Linked DNA regions of Homo sapiens: regions 2 and 3 are each linked to region 1. The links come from fine-mapping of genetic effects on gene expression. A gene starts in region 1. Each other region holds a variant in brackets. All regions are shown on one strand. Distances are from middle to middle.

Region 1 (2,500 bases):
GGCTTGTCAGTCACCTATGCAGGCGTCTGAGCCCCCGGGTTTCCAGGAGCCCCCCGTATAAGGACCCCAGGGACTCCTCTCCCCACGCGGCCGGGCCGCCCGCCCGGCCCCCAGCCCGGAGAGCTGCCACCGACCCCCTCAACGTCCCAAGCCCCAGCTCTGTCGCCCGCGTTCCTTCCTCTTCCTGGGCCACAATCTTGGCTTTCCCGGGCCGGCTTCACGCAGTTGCGCAGGAGCCCGCGGGGGAAGACCTCTCGTGGGGACCTCGAGCACGACGTGCGACCCTAAATCCCCACATCTCCTCTGCCGCCTCGCAGGCCACATGCACCGGGAGCCGGGCGGGGCAGGCGCGGCCCGCAAGGACCCCCGCGATGGAGACGCAACACTGCCGCGACTGCACTTGGGGCAGCCCCGCCGCGTCCCAGCCGCCTCCCGGCAGGAAGCGTAGGTGTGTGAGCCGACCCGGAGCGAGCCGCGCCCTCGGGCCAGCGTGGGCAGGGCGCCGCAGCCTGCGCAGCCCCGAGGACCCCGCGTCGCTCTCCCGAGCCAGGGTTCTCAGGAGCGGGCCGCGCAGGAGACGTTAGAGGGGGTTGTTAGCGGCTGTTGGGAGAACGGGTCACGGAAACAGTCCCTTCCAAAGCCGGGGCCATCGTGGGGTGGGCGAGTCCGCCCTCCCAGGCCGGGGGCGCGGACCAGAGGGGACGTGTGCAGACGGCCGCGGTCAGCCCCACCTCGCCCGGGCGGAGACGCACAGCTGGAGCTGGAGGGCCGTCGCCCGTTGGGCCCTCAGGGGCCTGAACGCCCAGGGGTCGCGGCGAGTCCACCCGGAGCGAGTCAGGTGAGCAGGTCGCCATGGCGATGCGGCCCCGGAGAGCGCACGCCTGCCGCGGTCGGCATGGAAACGCTCCCGCTAGGTCCGGGGGCGCCGCTGATTGGCCGATTCAACAGACGCGGGTGGGCAGCTCAGCCGCATCGCTAAGCCCGGCCGCCTCCCAGGCTGGAATCCCTCGACACTTGGTCCTTCCCGCCCCGCCCTTCCGTGCCCTGCCCTTCCCTGCCCTTCCCCGCCCTGCCCCGCCCGGCCCGGCCCGGCCCTGCCCAACCCTGCCCCGCCCTGCCCCGCCCAGCCGGCCACCTCTTAACCGCGATCCTCCAGTGCACTTGCCAGTTGTTCCGGACACATAGAAAGATAACGACGGGAAGAGCGGGGCCCGCTTTGGGGTCCAGGCAGGTTTTGGGGCCTCCTGTCTGGTGGGAGGAGGCCGCAGCGCAGCACCCTGCTCGTCACTTGGGATGGAGACCGGCTTTCCCGCAATCATGTACCCTGGATCTTTTATTGGGGGCTGGGGAGAAGAGTATCTCAGCTGGGAAGGACCGGGGCTCCCAGATTTCGTCTTCCAGGTAACGTGGGTTTAGTATCCCGACTTGGAGGCTTGTCAGAATGTTTCTCTCCTTCCAGCCCAACACGAAGTCTTGGGATAAAAAGCCTCCCTCAGGGATTCAAATAACTGTTTTGATTCAGAGCAACTTTGATCGCCTGTGCGGTCGCACCTGCCCTTTCAGCCCCAATAATTACTGGGAAGATCAGCAATTGGTGTTAGTCCCATTGCTTGGTGCTCTCCCTCCTAGAGGTTCGCTGTGTCCTTGGAGCCCGGGGTGGACGGAATCGACTAAACAGCTTGTCTGTTTCTCTTTCCCTGGTAGCAGCAGCCCGTGGAGTCTGAAGCAATGCACTGCAGCAACCCCAAGAGTGGAGTTGTGCTGGCTACAGTGGCCCGAGGTCCCGATGCTTGTCAGATACTCACCAGAGCCCCGCTGGGCCAGGATCCCCCGCAGAGGACAGTGCTAGGGCTGCTAACTGCAAATGGGCAGTACAGGAGGACCTGTGGCCAGGTAATGACTCAGACGCATTGAGAATGATGCTTGTGGAGAACAGCTCTCCTGCTTTGGTGCCAGGTGCTTTTCTCTTGCCCTTGTACCTACAACTCCCCCTGAGTATTACAACCCTGGAATCTGGACTACAGGAAAGTTGATTGATTTATTTTCTTTCTTTCTTTCTTTCTTTCTTTCTTTCTTTCTTTCTTTCTTTCTTTCTTTCTTTCTTTCTTTCTTTCGTTCTTTCTTTCTTTCTTTTCTTTCTCTTTCTTTCCTTCTTTCTTTTTCTTTGTTTCTCTTCCTTCTTCCTTTCCTTTTTTTTTCTTTCCTTTCCTTTCCTTCTTTTTTTTTTTTTGAGACGGAGTTTCGCTCTTGTCGCCAGGCTGGAGTGCAGTGACGCGATCTCGGCTCACTGCAACCTCCACCTCCCGGGTTCAAGCGATTCTCCTGCCTCAGCCTCCCGAGTAGCTGGGATTTCAGGCACCCACCACCACGCCCGGCTAATTTTTGTGTTTTTAGTAGAGATGGGATTTCACCATGTTGGCCAGGCTGGTCACCAACTCCTGACCTCAGGTGACCCGCCCACCTCGGCCTCCCAAAGTGTTGGGATTACAGGCGTCAGCCA
Region 2 (2,500 bases), 20 kb after region 1:
AGCCTCCCAAGTAGTTGAGATTACAAGCATGCAACACCATGCATGTGTGCTCTTTCGCTTTCTTTCTTTCTTTCTTTCTTTCTTTCTTTCTTTCTTTCTTTCTTTCTTTCTTTCTTTCTTTCTCTTTCTTTTTCTTTCTTTCTTTTTCTTTCCTTCTTTCTTTCTTTCTCTTTCTTTTTCTTTCTTTCTTTCTTTTTCTTTCCTTCCTTCTTTCTTTTTCTTCCTTCCTTCCTTTCTTCCTTCTTTCCTTCCTTTCTTTTTCTTTCTTTCTTTCCTTCCTTCCTTCCTTCCATCCTTCTTTCCTTCCTTCCTCCCTCCCTCTGTCCCTTCCTTCCTTCCATTCATTCGTAACGACAGGTCCTCAAACAGGCTGATCTCAAACTCCTGGGCTCAAGCAATCCTCCCACCTCAGCCTCCCAAAGTGCTAGGATTACAGGTATTATCCACCGAGCCTGGCCCTCTATATTATTTATAATTTGATTTTTACGGGTATGTTTAAATTACCTGTTAGTAAATTTTCTATAATCCTTTCAAAGTTTTATCCAGCTCTTTATTTTAAATAGAAGAATTTAAAATAATTCTTGGCCAGGCATGGTGGCTCATATCTGTAATCCTGGCAGTTTGGGAGGCTGAGGTGGGAGGATTGCTTGAGCCCAGGAGTTAGAGACCAGCCCGGGCAACATAGTGAAAGCCCCATCTCTACAACAATACAAAAATTAGCTGGACATAGTGGCACATGCCTGCAGTCCCAGCTACTTGGTAGGGTGAGGCAGGCAGACTGCTTTAGCCCAGGAGGTCAAGGCTGTAGCGAGCCATGATCCCACCACTGCACTCCAGCCTGGGCAACAGAGTGAGACCCTGTCTCAAAAAAAAAAAAAAAAAAAAAAAATAGAATTCTTCAGCTGCTGTTAAGGAAGATTCCTAGCTTCTTAGACCTGTTGGCATTACAGTCATTGCCCTTGTGTCCAAATGAGGCATCAGGAAAGCTGCAGCCTTCTTCCTCAAATCCCCTGGGGTTAAATTGTTGAATGCTGCTGATACAAATCACCAGGTTAGTGATGGGCTCTGTATTAAATATTGACACAAGATAAATTACTGGAATACTTTTAAATGTCTCGTATTATTAAGCACTTAGTGATTTTATTATATTTTCAC[T/C]TTCAGGAAAAACTAAAGTTTGGGTTACTAACATCTGACAGTCTAGAATTCTGAAACTTGTAACTCCATAACATCAGCTTAAAAAAATTGATTCCACAAGACACATACAAATACTCCTTGTAGGAGAATTATTTTGGCTCTATATATTGAGATTTATTCAAAGATCCTTAAAATTATCTGGAAAGCTTCAGACTGATACTTTCAAGCAAATATTAGTAGTCAATCTTGTGGCAAAATACAAGCTCCTTAAGAGCAGAACTTCTCTTTTCTTTATTTCCTCTACAGCCTTGCTGCTCAAAGTGTGGTCCATGGATCAGCAACATCAGCATTGTCTGGAAGTCTTTTAGAAATGTACAACCTTGGCCCCAACCTAGATTTACTGAATTTGAAATCTGTGCTTCAATAAGATAGAAGATTTGTGTGCACACTCAAGTTTGAGAAGCACTGGCCTATAGCACCCACCTCAGTGCTGGAAATGTAAGAGCTTAATAAAGTTTGGCTGGTGTTTCAGACTAGAACCTTCAAGAATTGATCATCAGTTTCAACTTCTTTGTTCCAAGGGTTGCTTTGGACTCTAGACTTCACCGTTACGCATCTGCTAGAAATAAACAGCAAGGCAAAATTTAAATAATGGGATTTTTTTTAAAAGTCCCATTCTATTTGATTATCTATACTGCACTCAAACAAACTGAATTTGGAGAGAAAGAGCCATCTCTGCCACTCTCCTGCTTCCTTTTAACCACACAGTGTCCTCTATGTGGCAGTATAACTCTGAGAAATGTGCAGAAAGTCAGCATTTAGTCTTTAGTTACCATCTCTCTGCTCAGAGCTGTCTGTCCCACAACGACAGACGGATAAGAGAGTCCATGAGTTAGGCCTTGCTTGCAGTTGGGAGGCCCTCAGAGGTTTTCTCTCCTTCTTTCTCTATTTCGTTAAACTCAAGAGGCCAAACATCTCAGATCTGGCCATATCACAGTACTGTAAACTCAACTGTCCCCTCTCCCTTAACTTAGGAAGCTTAACTAGAAAGGAACTCCAGAAACCATGGAAAAACCAAGTTCAAGATCATAACTCCTCAACACCTGGGCTTAGGTTGGAGGGAGTTGGCGCATGGACAGGCCTCAGATGGAATCCTCCAGATGGAATCCTTAAGCACTACCCTAATGACGTAGTGTTTCCTGTGACTAACATGAGCTTCAGGTATCACATTTGCAGTGTTGGGAGTGGGAGCATCTAAGCAAGAATGGTTTTCATCCAGGGGTGTGTGTCCTATGGGTGGTGAAGCCAACAATTAGTATATCCTCTGGGCATTAAGCACACGACATGACCACAAAGAACTTTTGTA
Region 3 (2,500 bases), 670 kb before region 1:
CTACATTCATACACACCTACACTCATACACACAGCTACACACACCTACACATACACCTACACACATACACACCTACTCGTACACACCTACACACACTACACGCCTACACACCTACACCAATACACACCTACACACACCCACACACATACACACCTACACTCATACACACCTATACACACCTGCACACCACACACATACACACCTATACACACTCCCTACATACTAGACATCTACACACACCTACACTCATACACACCTATACACACACTCCCTACACACATACACACCTACACACATACCCACACTCACACATACCTATACACATACACCCCTACACACACACATACACACATACCTACACCTACACTCATACATACCTACACACACTGCACACCTACACACACATATCTACACACACCTACACACATGCACACCTACACCCATACACACCTATACACACCTACACACACCTACACATACACACATACACACACCTACACATACACATCTATACACACCTACATACAACTCATACCTATACACATACACACACACCTACACACATACACACCTATAACACACATACATATCTACACACATACAAACCTGCACACATATATGCATACACACCTATATATACACACCTACACACCTACACATACACACCTACACACATACATACCTACACTCATACACACATACAACCCTACACACATAGACACCTATACCTACACACACACCTACACTCATACACACCTACACACACACATACACACCTACAGTCACCCACAACTACACATACACACCTACACTCACCCACAACTACACACACATACACACCTACACTCACCCATACCTACACACACATACATACACAACTACACTCATACACACCTATACACACATACACACCTACATACATTCACACCTACACTCATACCCACAGCTACACACACACATACATACACACCCACACACACACCACATATACACACCTACACTCATACACACACCTACACACACATACATACACACCTACATTCATACATACACACACCTACATTCATTCACACCTACACTCATACACAGCTACACACACCTACACACACTCTACACACCTACACACCTACACTAATACACACCTACACACACCCACACTCATACACACCTACACTCATACACACCTATACATACCCCCTACACACCTACACACCTATACACATACACATCACACACATACACACCTATACACAATCCTTACCTACACACCTACACACACCTACACTCATACGCACCCATACACACACCCCTACACACATACCTACACACACATACCTACACTCACACATACCTATGCACACATACACCCCTACACACACACATACCTATACCTGCACTCATACATACCTACACACCTACACACACACCTACACATGCACACCTACACCCA[TACACACCTATACAC/T]ACATACACACCTACACACACCTACACATACACACCTATACACACCTACACACACCTACGCATACACACCTATACACACATAAACACCTACACACACCTACACATACACACCTATACACACATACACACCTACACACACTTACACATACACACCTATACACACATACACACCTACACATACACACCTATACACACCTACATGACTCACATACCTATACACAAACACACCTACACATACACACCTATACACACCTACATGACTCACATACCTATACACAAACACACCTACACACATACACACCTATAACATACATACCTACACACAAACCTGCACACATATATGCATACACACCTATATACACACCTACACACATACACACCTACACACATACATACACACCTACACTCATACACACCTATATACACATACTTTTACACACCTACACATGCACACATACACACTTACACACATACATACCTAGACTCATACATACACCCCTACACACCTATACACACGCCTACACACATACACACCTACACCTACACACACATACACTCATACACACCTATACACACACTCCTACACACCTGCACTCATACACACCTACTCATACATACACACCTACACTCATACACACCTATACGCACATATACCCCTACACGCCTACACACACACACATACACACACACATACATACACGTGTACTTTCAGGATAACAAGGTAGTGACTTTACTGGAAACTCTAGCAATGGCACCGTGAGCTGCTGCTGTGCGGTGGGAAATTTGGAAACACAGGAGTAGCTGCGGTGCAGGGTCTGAGCTCCAAAGCTTCTCCCAGGCATCCTTGGGAACTGCAGGACAGTGAACAGCAAATAGCCCGCCTGCCAGCTGTGCTCTGACTTCCTCCAGATGGTGTCTGGTCCTCTCATAGGGGCCTGTGGTCCCTCCTGCGAAAGTTCACTTTGAGGATCATCCCCAAATTCCAGACTTGAAGAGGCACAGAGGTGGCCGAGGCACAGAGGTGGCCAAGGCCAGA

The links. PIP is the estimated chance that this variant, and not a neighbour inherited with it, causes the effect.
Region 2: its variant is fine-mapped to the expression of CCNA1 in whole blood (INTERVAL, PIP 0.99).
Region 3: its variant is fine-mapped to the expression of CCNA1 in lymphoblastoid cells (GEUVADIS, PIP 0.95).

What each region holds. Positions count from the first base shown.
Region 1 is chr13:36,431,329-36,433,828 of GRCh38, forward strand. It overlaps CCNA1 (cyclin A1), which reads left to right and starts at 1,167. Exons shown (of 9, transcript NM_001413923.1): 1 at 1,167-1,401; 2 at 1,705-1,893. The coding sequence starts at 1,729. RefSeq lists silencers at 471-540, 821-870, 901-1,060.
Region 2 is chr13:36,451,797-36,454,296 of GRCh38, forward strand. No RefSeq gene overlaps it. Among named protein-coding and RNA genes, the nearest start is that of CCNA1, 21 kb to the left of the region's middle. The variant T/C (reference allele first, on the strand shown) is at 1,156.
Region 3 is chr13:35,761,621-35,764,120 of GRCh38, forward strand. No RefSeq gene overlaps it. Among named protein-coding and RNA genes, the nearest start is that of LINC00445, 65 kb to the left of the region's middle. The variant TACACACCTATACAC/T (reference allele first, on the strand shown) is at 1,451.